2 linked regions of the Homo sapiens genome follow. The main gene of each other region encodes a partner of the protein of the gene in region 2 in a complex. Each region holds a gene or a part of one and is shown on either strand. Other genes may lie near its edges. A codon is read from its position in the direction of its gene.

Region 1 (7,670 bases), on a different chromosome or scaffold from region 2:
TGAAATAAGAATAGATCATTGTTTTGTACACACACACAATAAAATGTAATGATGGTGCTAATTTCACGGTATAAATAAGCACTGCCAAGGGTTGAGGGACTGGCAGCTCAAGAAACCCGGGTTCCTGTTTGGGAGGAGATTTTATGTAGAAAAGTTTGAGGCTTTGTTAAAAGTGGGGAGAAGGAAGATCCTCAGTGAAGCCTGCACCCAACCCTGGAGTGGCCCAGTGCAATCCAGAGGTGGAAGAGATCCTATATCCAGGTGAAGGTGGCCATTGAGTTTCTCAGGGCTGGGGCCACCTTGTCCATAGCCTCCGTCCACGCTGCCTGGAGCAGGTTGTTAGAGAGCTCTGGTTGTTGGGTCTTCCTCAGCTCCCTTCTGCCCCTCTCTACCTCTTCCACTCATGGAAGCCCCTCTACTGCTTATGAAGATTAAGGGTAGTATTTTCTAAGGAAGTGGAAAGAATTAAACTAGAAATCCACAACCTCGGAAGAAGTGTTTCGAGTTTAACATGCGCTGTTTCTGCTTATGTGGTTCCTTCTCTAGAGCTGCTTTCCCATGGCTTTCAAAACATCAGGTTATTGTGGGGCTTCAGGTGTAAGGTCCTGGAAGTTCAGCAAAGTTTCGTGGACAAGACATGGGCACAGAGAGTAGAAGCAGAAATAAATGGTTCTATGTTTTCAACTTCCAGGGTTGGGGCAGGCCAGAGCAAGGCGGTCTCATCGAGGTGGGTGCTACCTGTGTGTGTGTAGATGAGTGTGCTGAAGGTGGGGAGGGCAGCACACAGCAGCTCATGGCAGAGCCGCCTCCTAGGTCTTGGCAAAGAGGCAAGCTGACGATAGACATCTACCTATATTGTTAAGAAAGGGGTCGGGGGGATCAGCCAAGGTCCATCATTGCTTTTTTGCCGCGCCCCCCCCCCCCCGCCCCCATAGATTGTCAGCTGTAAGTGAAACTCCTAGTGAAAAAGAGGGGAGCCCTGTGTTAGGAGTCCCCATAAACATGTACTGTAATTCTTTGTATATAGAAAAAAAATTTACTGTAAAGTAAAGTTTAACTTTACTCATATATGGCCCTTGCCCTGTGTTTTGTTTTATTGGCTGTGGGGAGTTGTAGTCTAACAGGAGGGAGGATTGTTTGGGGTGAGAGCAGAAGCCAGCCCCAGAGATAGTACGAGGTGGGGGGCGGGGGGCGCAGGGATACTGTGAAGCTAAGCCCTTCCTCCAAGCACGTCATGGGAATAGTGTGTTTCCTCTCAGCAGCCACAGGGCTGCCCAAGCCTCTTTCTCCCTCTGTTGGGAGTGGCTGGTTTCAGTTTCAGTCTCCCTCCACAGGAAGCCCCCATCACTCATGAAGGAAGGGCAGTTTGAGGAATTGGTTTTTAAAAAGGAAGTGGAACCAAAGCACTCTCTGAGTGTGAGTCTGACCATGTTGGCTAAGTTGTACATTTTTCCAAGGCAGGTGTTGGCCACTGCAGAGGACTCAGCCCAGGCCTAAATAAAGGCAGGAAAGCAGAGGCAAAGGATAAAACTAAGGGAAAGCCCCTGGCCTGGGGCCACACCCTCCATACCAGAAAGGGCTGCAATAAATTTCCTTCTGGTTGAGCAGCAAGTGTCAGCCCTGTTTACAGTTAACACCTGATTCCTCAGAAATATCTGGATCTTCTTTGGGGAAAACTTGGGAGTTTGCTTCCCTTTGTGACCTAGTCCTGAACTTCCTGCCCTTTCAGCAAAAAGTGCTTGGGAAGATTGGGAAAAACATTTAGTACTAGAGTTACTCTTCACTTTCTTCACAATCCTTGGGCTGCATAGTAGTCACCTTATTTTACAGATGAGAAACTCAAGATGAGGATTTAAGTCCCTTTTCTAAATTAGCAGCTGAATTGGAACCAAATCTGGATCCATTAGACCTTTCTGGCTTACAGAACTTAGGACTTTCCTACCATTAAACCACATTGTAGGATGTCACTGGGAAGCTCAGGACCTGAGTCACAGGTCTGACATAGGGGCCCAAACATGACAGATGCAGTAGAGCTAGTCAGACCAACCTGTCTCAGGTAGGAATGCTTGACCCTTTTATTTCGAAGCAACTCATGCACTCTTTTCAGCACTCAGAAGGAACTGTGAGCTTTTATACTACTACAGCCCCAGTATCTCAGCGGTAACCATGGGGAAAAAAGTCTTGTTTTCCAAAGGAAAATGAGAGTTGGGAGGAGCCTTAATATAAGCAGTGAGGCCAGCCGGGTGGCCCCAGGAAGAACTAGGTGTCTTGACACCTAATCCACACAGCAGGGAAAGGGGCTGGGTGTGATGCACAGTGCACTGATTTTATTTACAGATCAAAAGCCACTTAAATAATCTGCAGACACAAGTGCTGTCCAGGGCAGAAGCCTGGGGTCCAAATCAGCCTTATCCCTCCTCATGCCCACAGTCAGCCCAATGCTGTCTCCGTTCCATGGGCCAGCACAGGCAGGCGCCACTCTGCTGACATGAGGACCTGGGGTAGCTCAGACATTTGACTACCCAAGCCCAGAAAGGAGCTGGGTCCAGCCCTTACGGGGAATTCCTTTAATTCCCCCAGGCCAGGTGAGTGCTGACTCAGTGATGACAACAGCTGTAGAAGTAGGGGTTTGGCTTCTGGCCCAGATCCACGCCCTTGTCCTCTGTCAAAAAGAGAGGTGGCAGCTCAGCACCATTCTGTTGGGATCAGGTAACTCAGGAAAGGGGCTAGATGCTGTGGGCCTAGAGTAAGTCTCCATAAAGGCTGGGGAAGCACACACCTGTCATCACCTGGAAGGCAGCCACACTGACGTAATCCTCTGCCACTTTCTGGAAGAGCTCGTCTGGCAGGAAAAATGATGATCAGCGAGGGCCCAATGCCAGTAGCCCTGGGATCTCCCAGTGACCCAGCCCTCTGTGCCCTATTCAGCTTCCTCTGGTGCCCCTGCATGTTCCTGCTGTGAGGCTCCAGCACAGCACTCACCCACACTCTGGCCTGTCTTGCTGGATGTTTCAAAGAGCTGAGCTTTGATATCTGTAAAGAGAAGTGACTAAAGCCTCATACCTGAGAATTAGATAAACAGACAAAAGGGAGGGCTAGCAGTTCAGGGAGTCTCCTGGACCCCACAGTTCAAGGAGGCCAGGAAGACCTCCTAGAGCACCTTGCCCTGGCAGCCAAGGCAGTCCCTATTTTCTTTGATCCACCCAGACAGCCACACACCCCCACCCCCCAAAGGGCTGAGGAGCAGCTACTGTCTGCATAGTCCTGGACGTCGTGGAAGTCCACACGTCGACGCCTCCGGTCTTCTTCCAGCAGGTCACTCTTGGTGCCACATAAGTAGATTTGGCAGCCCTGAGGCAGAAGACAAGGGTCACCTCCACAGGCCAACAAAACCCCAGCCCCTAGTGTTCTAGTGAGGTCTGTTCACCTACCTCCTCTAGGCTGCGCAGTTCCTTCACCCAGAACTTTGCTCGCTCAAAGCTGCTGCTGTCTGTGAGGTCTTGGTGTGCGGCATGCAGGAGACAACCAAGTGGTCAAGGGCTGTTCTCTGGCTAGCCTGGCACCCATCTTTTCTTGTGAGACAGCCCAAACCCCCCCCCCCCTTACCATAGCAGACGATGGCAGCCTTGGCACCCCGATAGTAGATTCTACTCATGGCCTCATAGCGCTCAGAGCCTGCTGTGTCCTAAAGAGTAAGGCCTGAGTCAAACTTAAGGCCACGTTCTCCAGACCCCGCTATTTTCCAGATAAGGAAACGGGTCTATGAGAAATGGGTCTGTGAGGCCACAAATCAACCAGTAATAGGCAGGACCTACACCTCCTCAGGAATGAGTCTCCCAAGAATAGATGGCCGGGGGACTTACCCAAATACCTAATGTCACAGTCCGGTCTCCGACCGACATCACCTTGGCCACGAAGGCGGCCCCGATGGTCTGCAACGAGAGGGAAGAGATCGGGGCCATAGGTGCAGATTACCGGCCCCCCACTCCCCCGCCCACCGTGCCTGGCCCCTCCGGATGCACTCACGTTCTGATAAGGCCCCACCAGAAAGCGGTCGTGCACGTAGCGCTCCACCAGGCTAGTCTTGCCCACGTACTCCTTGCCCAGCATCACCACCTTGACGTCCACGCGCTGCCCGCTCATGCTCCCGGGGCCGCTTCAGCCACGTCAGGGTCCTGAGCGGGGACGGGAGGCAAACCCCGATCTCCGCTCGGCCCAGGCAGCGCCCAAGCCTCAGACCCCGACCCCAAACGGCGCCAACCTACGACTCCAGACAGCGCGTCGGGCTCGAGCTCTGGCCGTGGCCTTGCACTTCGGCAGCGCCCCGTGTGCCCCCGCTGTTCGGCCCCGGGCGCCGATTATCCTTCGAAGACCCCAAGCCTCGGGGCGGCCTGGGAGCGCGCGGGACAGCGTCCTCAACAGCGCAGCACGCCGCCGTGCAGCTCGCTACTCCGTCATTCGCTCGCCTGCCCGGCTTAAGCTCCGTTCTGGCTGGGAATCCCAACCGAACCTGGGGTCTCCCGCAACCCGGCTCCTACCCGCAGCGCCGCGACTCCCGCGGGAGGGGGCTAGAGGGCGAGGGGGCGGGGCCGCAAGGTCACGTGGCGCGGGCGCCGGAAGCGGTGGCTACTGTGTGGCTGCGCCGGAAGTGGCGCGCGGCCGGACAACTCATGGCGGCGGCGGCGGCGGCGGCAGCTGCTTGGGCGCGGTGCGGTGGTGACTGAGCTACGAGCCTGGCGGCGGGTGTGCGCCGAGCCCCGGCCCGGCCCGGCCCTCGCGTGCCTCCCAGGCTCCGCACCCCTGATGCTGCGCGGGTGCTGAGCCCGCTTCGGCCGGGACGATGGTGAAGTATTTCCTGGGCCAGAGCGTGCTCCGGAGTTCCTGGGACCAAGTGTTCGCCGCCTTCTGGCAGCGGTACCCGAATCCCTATAGGTACGTGGTATTTGGAAGAGCAAAACCGCGCCATCTCGCTATCTGGAGATCGAATTATGGGTAACCCCCAAGTACTGGGACCAGGAAGGACTCGATATCGAATCCTAGGTAGACCTTATCGGGGAAGCGGCCAGGCCAGGCCTGCAAGGTCCTGAAGGGAGGTTGGGCCTGGGTGGTGGTTTACTTGAGACCTTAGTGTAAGATTCTTTTCTCAGTGTGGTGAGACAAGAAGAGGCGGCAGTATGGGAGTTGGGAGGGATCTTGGAGTTGGAAATCCTATTTCTCTGCCCGTGGCGCTTTCCTGGGGTGCAATAAATCATGAGGTCCATTCCTGCTAGAAGGCAGGAATCCAGGTCAGTCAGATGGCGGGAGTGGGAATTTGCCCTGGGATGGGCCCTTAACTCTGGTTTGAACCATAGCACATACCACCCTGCAAGGTTACGGGAAGGCGTGGCCTCTCTAGGCCCGGAGCCTCCAAATGGGAATCCCCTCGGGCAGTCTCTTAGGGGCAAGCTTCTGAGGGTCACCTTCACCCTGACACCTGCAGCAAACATGTCTTGACGGAAGACATAGTACACCGGGAGGTGACCCCTGACCAGAAACTGCTGTCCCGGCGACTCCTGACCAAGACCAACAGGATGCCACGCTGGGCCGAGCGACTATTTCCTGCCAATGTTGCTCACTCGGTGTACGTCCTGGAGGACTCTATTGTGGACCCACAGAATCAGACCATGACTACCTTCACCTGGAACATCAACCACGCCCGGCTGATGGTGAGACACCTCCTGTTGTGATTCTGCACCTCCCCCTCTCCCCTCCCCCCGAGATAGAGAGCTCCTCAGATACATGTGGCTAGAGAGCCATAAGGCAGCTTTTGTGGCCGGAGGCAGGTCTGGGTTACTGAGGGTTGACAGCTGTAGAGTATGACCTCAGGTTTTCTTCTTTTCAGCTGGCCATCCTCTCTGGACCTGTCCTTTGACTCATTCATACAGTGGGGGAGGGGTACCTATCTTACGGAGTTGTCCTAAGTTCTAAATGCAAAGCGCTCCCATCTGGCATCTATGGCACAGATATATGTTGGACTCACAGGAGTGATGCTGAGTGGCGGAGGCAGTGCTTTTCTTTTTTTTTTTTCTGTTTTTTGTTTTTTTCTGGTGACAAGAGTCTCACCCAGGTTGGAGTGTAGTGACATGATCTCACCTCACTGCCACTGCCACCTCCTGGGTTTAAGCAATTCTCGTGCCTCAGCCTTCTGAAGAGGTGGATTTCTAAGCACACACCACCACGCCTGGCTAATTTTTGTATTTTTAGTACAGACAAGGTTTTACCATGTTGGCCAGGCTGGTCTCGAACTCCTAACCTCAAGTGATCCGCCCGCCTCGGCCTCCCAAAGTGCTAAGATTACAGGCGTGAGCCACCGCGCCGGGCAAATGTTTTTATTTGGACTGTCAGGAAGCTCCAGAGCTGCAGCTGGTGGAAGGCGGCTAAAACACTGCATGCGTCTAGATGCACAAAACAAAATCCAGGAGCAGGATGGGCTGGAAGGCCCTTTGTTGATCTCAAGAGAGAGACCTTTTGCCTTCTAGTTTAAGAGTCAGAAGAGAGGTTTTCGAGAGCAAAACGACCTTATTTATGGCTTCTTGTTCTGTCAGTGCCACTTGGAGGTGCAGTCAGGGGAAGGAATGGATTTTCATTGTATTGCTTCGCCTCATGAAAAGTGACAGGGAGTCAGATTTATGTGCAAGTTGGCAAAATGAAAGACTGTTCCACGATTGTGGTTGGCCTCTGCATAGGTGGTGGAGGAACGATGTGTTTACTGTGTGAACTCTGACAACAGTGGCTGGACTGAAATCCGCCGGGAAGCCTGGGTCTCCTCTAGCTTATTTGGTGTCTCCAGAGCTGTCCAGGTGAGCAGTGTTGTTGGGGCTGCTGGGGCTCTGGGACCCAGTGCTTTCGGTGTTGGGGCTGGGCTGGGGTCAGTGGGCAACTCAGTATCCTTCCCATTCTCATCTCATGCCAGGAATTTGGTCTTGCCCGATTCAAAAGCAACGTGACCAAGACTATGAAGGGTTTTGAATATATCTTGGCTAAGCTGCAAGGTGAGTTTCTGGGTATGTGGATATTCCTCATAGGGAGAGGCTCATTCAGCCTAGCGGGCGTGGAGTCTGGGTTAGTCATTGCCCTGCTCTGAGCTGGGACTCCTTGTCTGTACTGGGGGTGGGAGGAGGGTGAATACCACCTTTTTAGTGGAGCCTGGCCCAGAGGAGATTGGTGTCATGGGGGAGGGAAATTAGGTTGGTCTTTCAGGCATCTTCTAAAGGCAGCCACCTGCCGTTCGCGACAGGCGAGGCCCCTTCCAAAACACTTGTTGAGACAGCCAAGGAAGCCAAGGAGAAGGCAAAGGAGACGGCACTGGCAGCTACAGAGAAGGCCAAGGACCTCGCCAGCAAGGCGGCCACCAAGAAGCAGCAGCAGCAGCAACAGTTTGTGTAGCCAGTCTACCACCACCACAGCACCCCAGACAGCTAGGCTTAGCCTCTCTGCCCTCCCTTCATTGTACTTTATCATTAAAAATCAACTTCCAGCCCTGTCTGCTGTCTACGTGGTGGGTTGTGGGGATGCAGTTTGGCATCTGCAGTACACCAAGCACATGATTCATGTCTGAGCCAGGTCTGCTTATTCTCCCATTGGGCAGCTGAGGACCGAGGCACAGAGGTGCGGTGACTTGCCCGGGGCTC
Region 2 (7,510 bases):
AACAGGGTTTCGCCATGTTGGCCAGGCTGGTCTCGAACTCCTGACCTAAAGTGATCTGCCTGCCTCGGCCTCCCAAAATGCTGGGATTACAGGAGTGAGCCATTATGCCCGGCCAAGTCAGGGCTTTTATAGCTAAGATGCCTACTACCTAAAACATTTAAGCAACTTGGCCTCCTGCAAAGAAGGATGGTGAGAAGAATGGCCATTATGCCATCAACTAGGTGGTGACCCAAGAGTACACCATTAATATTCACAAGTGTATCCATGGAGTGGGCTTCAAGAAGTGTGCCCCTCAGGCTCTTAAAGAGACCGGAAATTTGCAATGAAGGAGATAGAAAACTCCAGATATGTGTATTGATACCAGGCTCAACAAAGCTGTCTGGGCCAAAGTAGTAAGGAATGTCCATACTGTGTCCATGTGCAGTGGATGGTCCAGAAAACATAATGAGGTTAGAAATTCACCAAATAAGCTCTATACTTTGGTTATATACTTGTTACCACTTTCACAAATCTACAGTCAGTGTGGATGGGAACTAACTGCTGATCATCAAATACATCAAATGAAGTTATAAAAACTACAAAAAAATAAAAAATAAAAGGTTTAATACTTGTCTTCACTTTACATTCTGTGTGTTCAAAGCATTAAAGTCCTACAGATGTCACATTAAAATGATTAATGGGAATTATTAACCCAAACTGGTTTCCAAATTTATGAAAAACAGTACAGATCACTGAATACGAGGTTGAGATGCTAGCTACTGGATCCAAATTCCTCATCTTTTTTCACGACCTTTTCCCTTATTAATGATGGTTATATTTCTTTGTATTTACCCTCTAGATAACTTGGGGAAATTCTGATGACTCTGTGCTTCTAGTCCCTCCTTTCCTAGAGATATTAATAAAGAACACTGGGACCGGGCATGGTGGCTCATGCCTGTAATCCCAGCACTTTGGGAGGCCAAGGTGGGCAGATCACCTGAGGTCGGGAGTTTGAGACCAGCCTGACCAACATGGAGAAACCCTGTCTCTACTAAAAATACAAAATTAGCTGGGCGTGGTGGCGTGCACCTGTAATCCCAGCTACTTGGGAGGCTGAGGCAGGAGAATCGCTTGAACCTGGGAGGCAGAGGTTGTGGTGAGCTGAGATCGCGCCATTGCACTCCAGCCTGGGCAACGTGAGCAAAACTCTGTCTCTAAAAAAAAAAAAATTCATTAAACATTTACTGTGGCCGGGCACGGCAGCTCAAGGCTGTATTCCCAGCACTTTGGGAGGCTGAGGCAGGCAGATCACCTGAGGTCAGGAGTTCAAGACGAGCCTTGCCAACATGGTGAAACCCCTCTCTACTAAAAATACAAAAATTAACCAGGCATGGTGGTGCATGCCTGTAATCCCGGGTGCTCGGGAAGCTGAGGCAAGAGAATCTCAAACCCAGGAGGCAGAGGTTGCAGTGAGCCGAGATCACGCCACTGCCTCCAGCGTGGGCAACAGAGTGAGACTCCATCTCAAAAAAACAAAACAAAACAAAACAAAACACATTTACTGAATACTCAGTGCCAACCACTGAGAACATGATAAGGAAAAACAGACATGCTGTGGAAGGTGGGTGAGCAGGAGAGGGGCAGAGACTCAACACATCCCTTAAATAGATGTATAAACGCATGTATAAATCAGCCCTTTTGGATATCACGAGAGCCACAGGTAGAGAACCTAAGTATAGCCAGGCACAGTGGCTCACGCCTGTAATCAGCACCTTTGGGAGGCTGAGGTGGGCAGATCACGAGGTCAGGAGATCGAGACCATCTTGGCTACGGTGAAACCTCATCTCTACTAAAAATACAAAAAATTAGCCAGGCGTGGTAGTGGGCACTTGTAGACCCAGCTACTTGGGAGGCTGAGGCAGGAGAATGGCATGAACCCAGGAGGCGGAACTTGCAGTGAGCCAAGATCACGCCACTGCACTCCAGCCTCAGCGACAGAGCGAGACTCTTGTCTCAATTAAAAAAAAAAAAAAAGAACCTAAGTATAAAAGAATGAAGACTTGTGGCTCACGCCTATAATCCCAGCACTTTGGGAGGCCGAGGCGGGTGGACTGTGAGGTCATGAGTTCGAGACCAGCCTGGCCAACATGGTGAAACCCCGTCTCTATTAAAAATACAAAAATTAGCTGGGCGTGGTGGCGGGCGCCTGTAGTCCCAGCTACTCGGGAGGCTGAGGCAAGAGAATCACTTGAAACCGGAAGGTGGAGGTTGCAGTGAGCTGAGATTGCACCACTGTACTCCAGCCTGGGTGGAAGAGTGAAACTCCGTCTCAAAAAAAAAAAAAAAAAAAAAGGAATGGACTTTTTTGGCCAGTGCAGTGACTCATACCTGTAATCCCAGCACTTTGGGAGGCGAAGATGGGCGGATCACTTGAGGCCAGGGGTTCGAGACCAGCCTGGTCAACATGGTGAAACCCTGTCTCTACTAAAAATGCAAAAACTAGCTGAGTGTGGTGGCGGGTGCCTGTAATCCCAGCTACTCCGGAGGCTGAGGCACAAAAATCACTTGAACCTGGAGGGTGGAGGTTGCAGTGAGCCAAGATCATGCCACTGCACTCCAGCCTGGGTGATGGGGCAGGACTCCACCTCAAAAAAAAAAAAAAACTTTCTTGAGGAAGTGGGAGGCTGAGGCAGGAGGATTGCTTGAGACCAGGAGTTTGAGACCATATGGGGCAACATGGCAAGACCCCGTTTCTACAAAAATTTTAAGTATTAGCCAGGTGTGGTGGTGCACACCTATAGTCCCAGCTATTTGGGAGGCTGAGGCAGGAGGATCTCTTGAGTCTAGAAGTTTGCGACCAGCCTGGGCAACATAGTGAGACCCCGTCCCAAAGGAAAAAGAAAATTGCAAAGTAGAGAAGACATTTGAAAGAATCAAACACGGCCAGGTGCTGTGGCTCATGCCTGTAATCCCAGTACTTTAGGAGGCTGAGATGGGTGGATCACCTTTGCTCAGGAGTCCAGACAAGCCTGGGGAACATGGCAAAATCCCGTCTCTATCAAAAATACAAAAAATTAGCCAGGCCAAGTGGCACGCGCCTGTGGTCCTGTACTTGGGAGGCTGAGATGGGAGGCTCTCTTGAGTCTGGGAGGTGGACATTACAATGAGCTGAGATCATGCCACTGCACTCTAACCTGGGTGATAGAGTGAGACTCCATCTCAAAAACAAATAAAATAAAAATTCAAGGCAGGAATAAAACAGTAACTACATAATGAGCTCACATTTTAATAAAAGAGATATAACAAATGAACAAAAGTCCATTAAAATGTTAGGGAAAAAACCCAATAGGATGAGTTACTAACTAGAAGGGGAGAAGGGATTTGGAGTGGTTAGGAGAGCCCTTTCTGAGAAGATAAGCTGAGACCTGTGCCAAGAGGGAGGCAGCCATGCAAATACTGAGAGGAAGGAAAAAAACGAAGGGCCAGTGCAGAGATCTAGAGAGGAAAAGAACTTGTCTTGCTGGAGAAGCAGTCAAGGTAGCCAAGGAGAGTACTGAGAAGAGTACGTTGGAGTGAGTAGGTAGGGACTCTATGGAGTAGGGCCTTAAAGGCGATGATTAGGCCAGGCGCGGTGGCTCACACCTGTAATCCCAGCACTTTGGGAGGCCGAGGCGGGTGGATCACGGTCAGGAGTTCAAGACCAACCTGGCCAAGATGGTGAAACCACGTCTCTACTAAAAATACAAAAAAAATAAGCCGGGCCTGGTGGCAGTCGCCTGTAATCCCAGCTACTCGGGAGGCTGAGGCAGAGAATTGCTTGAACACGGGAGGCGGAGGTTGCAGTGAGCCGAGATCGAGCCACTGCACTCCAGCCTAGGCAACACAGCGAGACTCCGTCTCAAAAAAAAAAAAACAAAACAAACAAACAAAAAAAAAAACAAAGGCAGTGATTAGCAGTTCGGGTTTTGTTTCCACTTACACTAGCGAGAGCATCAGTAATGAACAAGGGGAAGAGTGAAGCCACTGACTCGCGAGGTGACTGTGGGCAAGTTCCTGAATCTTGCTAACACTCTTTAACCCCCTGGAAAACTGTTCGCTAATCGTCACATTAAACGGCTGCGAACGGGCCACGGTCAAGGCTTCGGGGCTGCAGCCGCGAGTTTACCTGTCCTCCAGGACCGATTCCATGGGCTCCACCCCGTCTGTGTCCACGGCGCGTAGCCGGTCGGCGAAGGCGATAGCTTTCTCCAGTCGCGCCACTGCCTCGCGGCTGCCGAAGTCCACAAGCGCTAGACGCTCCAGGTGCTCGATCACCGCAGCCGTGATCCGGCCACTGCCCTGGAGGAGGGATGAGGCGGGGAGTGTGGGTCACCGGCGCTCCGAAGTGCCTCCCGGCTTGCTCCGCCACCCGCCTAGATGGCCCTGGCCTTTACCTGAGGATCCGCCTTGGAGGTGAAGCCCTGGCGCCCGCCCAGAGGGGCCCGAAGGCCCAGCCACACCAACCGCGACCACATTTCTTCCTTCCTTGGCCCCCGCAGTGCGCCCGCGCGTAACGCCGAGCGACGCGCCTGAGAGTGATGACATCAGAGTGCGCCGTCGTCGCCGCCGCCACCACTGTCGCCATGAACAGTGTGGGGGAGGCATGCACGGACATGAAGCGCGAGTACGACCAGTGCTTCAATCGCTGGTTCGCCGAGAAATTTCTCAAGGGGGACAGCTCCGGGGACCCGTGCACCGACCTCTTCAAGCGCTACCAGCAGTGTGTTCAGGTGAGCCCTCCCGCCTCTGTTCCCAGGCCCTGCATTCTCGGCGCTGTGTCCCACCACACTCATCGTATTTTACGGGGATTGGGACTGGACTGGAAGGGTGGAGAAAAGTCGCAGTGAGGCCAGTGGCAGGAGCTCGCTCCCCTACCATCACCACCGAGGCCACTTGGGTGTCTCTCCGAATGACAAATATTGGGGCAGTGCTTTTCAAGAAGCACAGTCACATCCTTTGGTTCATTTGGTGTTCACCCTAAACTCGCAAGGTGGGCATAGTTACTCATATTTTATACATAAAAAACTAACACCCAGAAATAGGAAGTGATTAATCCGAGTTCACTAGCATCAGGTTTCCTTGGTTCTTTCGCAGGTGGTGCACTTTTCCACTATTACTGCTGGGGTCTGGGCGGGATTATACTTCAGAATTCAGACTGGAGGGTCACATTTTTTTGTTGTTATAAACCCTTCGTTAGCCTGTTTCTCTCTCTTGACCAGTCCCCGCAACTGCAGCCAGGAAATGTTTATTCTGGCCCAATGGATGTGGAACTGCTTTGAATTGTTAAGAACAGCACCGGGCAAAGCACTTCCAATAAGTTAACCCAACACATCCTCACAGCAATTCCCCGAGGTAGTTGCTGTCTTCATCCCATTTACAGTTAGTCACATAGCCAGTAAGTCCTGGAACCCAGATTTGAACCTAAGTCTTTCACTAACACAAAGTGATGATTATTTTTCAAATTTCACTTAATTTTAACGGTTCCCTCACAACTCCTTTTCCAGTCTCCCTCAGGTCTTACACTTGATTTATTCATTATGGTACTTCTGGTTTTTATTTATTTTTGAGGCAGAGTCTCACTCTGTCTCCCAGCCTGGAGTGCAATGGCACAATCTCAGCTCACTGCAACCTCCGCCTCCCAGGTTCAAGCTATTCTCATGCCTCAGCCACCCGAGTAGCTGGGCTTACAGGCATGCGCCACCATGCCCAGCTAATTTTTGTATTTTTAGTATAAACAGGGTCTCGCCATGTTGGCCAGGTTGGTCTCTAACTTCTGGCCTCAAGTGATCCACCTGCCTTGGTCTCCCAAAATGCTGCGATTATAGGCGTGAGCCACCACACCTGACCGGTACTTGTTTTTTAAAAAGTATGTGGTTTGAATCATGGTTATAAGTCTTTATAATCAGCTTGATTTTACTTTTGTACTGTCATATTTTATTTACAAAGCTTGCAACTTAAGCTTCATGTAGGTCTTTATAATGTGTTTTCTCCTCCTACCAGAAAGCAATAAAGGAGAAAGAGATTCCTATTGAAGGACTGGAGTTCATGGGCCATGGCAAAGAAAAGCCTGAAAATTCTTCTTGACCTTGACAGTCACCTTGAAGGATTTCGCAAGTCCAGAAATTGAGGACTCTGGATTTTTGTCAACTAACTCTGTGAACATAGCCATCAGATTTGATGAGGAACTTAGGAGAGAGGAGTTTTATTTCCTCCTTCGATGTTTTCCTCTCAGTTGTAAAAGATGAACTCTTTGAGATGATTTCTCACCTGCTGTGGTATCTTGCAGGAACTGTGTGCTAAAATTGAACAATTTTTTTGAGATTATGGTTGCAATACTTGGCGTGGAATCAGCTTTACATAAATATACCTTGTATGCAAACGATGATAAACTAGTCAGGATGAGCAGAGCTGCCTGACCTCTTGATTTCTGCTGCAAAAGACATATACACTGTACTGGGGTCACTATTTATGAAAGCAATTGGTTAGGACCTCTTTTTTTCCTCTCAGGGAACTAATGCTCTGAAAAGGGATCTGGGCACAACAGTTTCAGTGAGTGCTTTTGAGCACACTTTTATTTTTATATAGTAACTAATGGTTAAGATTGATGGTGGCCTGGATTAGCAAAGAGGAAGACAGCTTTTAACACAGTTCCCTGCCTTCACAAGAGGTGTCAGATTAAGATGTGAAAGCTGCAAGAATGTTGCAGTGAACACCATTTCAGAGCTCTCAGTGTGCAGTTCAGGAATTAAGATACTTGGAATAGCTGTGGAGGAAGAACCTAAATTGCAAAGATCTGCTATTGCCAGCTCTCAACCCAAGTCAGTGAATTGTCAACCTGCATATCCTAAAAATGTCAAAATGCTGCATCTGGTTAAATGTCGGGGTAGGGGGGAAGCTGAAGGTGCTCGCTTCATTTGCCTTGTTTACTCATCCTGCCCTGTAATGTCTGTAATCCTGAAGATGGAATAAATTGTAACATTTAGTTTCTATCATTATTTGCCTCTGGAACTCAGTGCATTTTATGGAACTATTACCCTGTTACCCTACAAACCTCATATATACAGTGGGGAGAGTTTTGTGTTTTGTAACTTAAAGGTGAAGAAAAAGTGACTTGTCTTAAGCTAGGTGGTACAGTATGGCAATCAGAAACCTCACATTTTTTTTTTTTGAGACAGTCTGGTTCTGTCACCCAGGCTGGAGTGCAGTGGCGCAATCTTGTCTTACTGCAAACTCCACCTCCTGGGTTCCAATGATTCTCCTGCCTCAGTCTCCCAAGTAGCTGGGATTACAGGCATGCATCACCATGCCCAGCTAGTTTTTGTATTTTTAGTAGAGATGGGGTTTCACCATGTTGGCTGGTCTTGAACTCTTGACCTCCCGAAGTGCTGGGATTACAGGCATGAGCCACCGCACCCAGCCAAAACCTCACTGATTTCTAAAATTTCCACAATAGGCTATACAAATACACTACGGTACCAAAAAAGGATCAGGA

The links.
Region 1: the proteins of TRIAP1 (region 2) and PRELID1 are in contact, whole or in part, in a crystal structure (PDB 6I3V), measured with the Homo sapiens proteins. Residues at the interface, in NP_057483.1 of Homo sapiens: Met1 (codon at 4,602), Asn2 (codon at 4,605), Ser3 (codon at 4,608), Val4 (codon at 4,611), Lys12 (codon at 4,635), Tyr15 (codon at 4,644), Asp16 (codon at 4,647), Phe19 (codon at 4,656), Asn20 (codon at 4,659), Trp22 (codon at 4,665), Phe23 (codon at 4,668), Phe27 (codon at 4,680), Leu28 (codon at 4,683), Gly30 (codon at 4,689), Asp31 (codon at 4,692), Ser32 (codon at 4,695), Phe41 (codon at 4,722), Tyr44 (codon at 4,731), Gln45 (codon at 4,734), Val48 (codon at 4,743), Gln49 (codon at 4,746), Ile52 (codon at 6,025), Ile57 (codon at 6,040), Pro58 (codon at 6,043), Ile59 (codon at 6,046), Leu62 (codon at 6,055), Glu63 (codon at 6,058), Phe64 (codon at 6,061), Met65 (codon at 6,064), Gly66 (codon at 6,067); in NP_037369.1 of Homo sapiens: Trp15 (codon at 4,883), Asp16 (codon at 4,886), Phe19 (codon at 4,895), Ala20 (codon at 4,898), Trp23 (codon at 4,907), Gln24 (codon at 4,910), Tyr26 (codon at 4,916), Pro27 (codon at 4,919), Val34 (codon at 5,487), Leu35 (codon at 5,490), Thr36 (codon at 5,493), Glu37 (codon at 5,496), Asp38 (codon at 5,499), Ile39 (codon at 5,502), Val40 (codon at 5,505), His41 (codon at 5,508), Arg42 (codon at 5,511), Val44 (codon at 5,517), Gln48 (codon at 5,529), Lys49 (codon at 5,532), Leu50 (codon at 5,535), Leu51 (codon at 5,538), Ser52 (codon at 5,541), Arg53 (codon at 5,544), Leu55 (codon at 5,550), Thr57 (codon at 5,556), Tyr79 (codon at 5,622), Leu81 (codon at 5,628), Asp83 (codon at 5,634), Ser84 (codon at 5,637).

The regions. Positions count from the first base shown.
Region 1 is NC_000005.10:177,299,146-177,306,815, forward strand, and holds the start of PRELID1 (PRELI domain-containing protein 1, mitochondrial isoform 1 precursor), read left to right. Parts: upstream 1-4,653; 5' UTR 4,654-4,840; coding exon 4,841-4,932; intron 4,933-5,479; coding exon 5,480-5,705; intron 5,706-6,353; exon of another isoform or gene 6,354-6,725; coding exon 6,726-6,839; exon of another isoform or gene 6,840-6,952; coding exon 6,953-7,031; exon of another isoform or gene 7,032-7,276; coding exon 7,277-7,425; 3' UTR 7,426-7,670. Other genes in the region: RAB24 (ras-related protein Rab-24), read right to left, coding at 2,598-2,662, 2,780-2,842, 2,983-3,033, 3,252-3,351, 3,432-3,499, 3,607-3,685, 3,864-3,932, 4,027-4,143. UniProt on the Homo sapiens protein: Involved in the modulation of the mitochondrial apoptotic pathway by ensuring the accumulation of cardiolipin (CL) in mitochondrial membranes.
Region 2 is NC_000012.12:120,443,464-120,450,973, reverse strand, and holds TRIAP1 (TP53-regulated inhibitor of apoptosis 1), read left to right. Parts: upstream 1-4,589; 5' UTR 4,590-4,601; coding exon 4,602-4,748; intron 4,749-6,018; coding exon 6,019-6,102; 3' UTR 6,103-7,010; downstream 7,011-7,510. Other genes in the region: GATC (glutamyl-tRNA(Gln) amidotransferase subunit C, mitochondrial), read right to left, coding at 4,145-4,317, 4,413-4,493. UniProt on the Homo sapiens protein: Involved in the modulation of the mitochondrial apoptotic pathway by ensuring the accumulation of cardiolipin (CL) in mitochondrial membranes.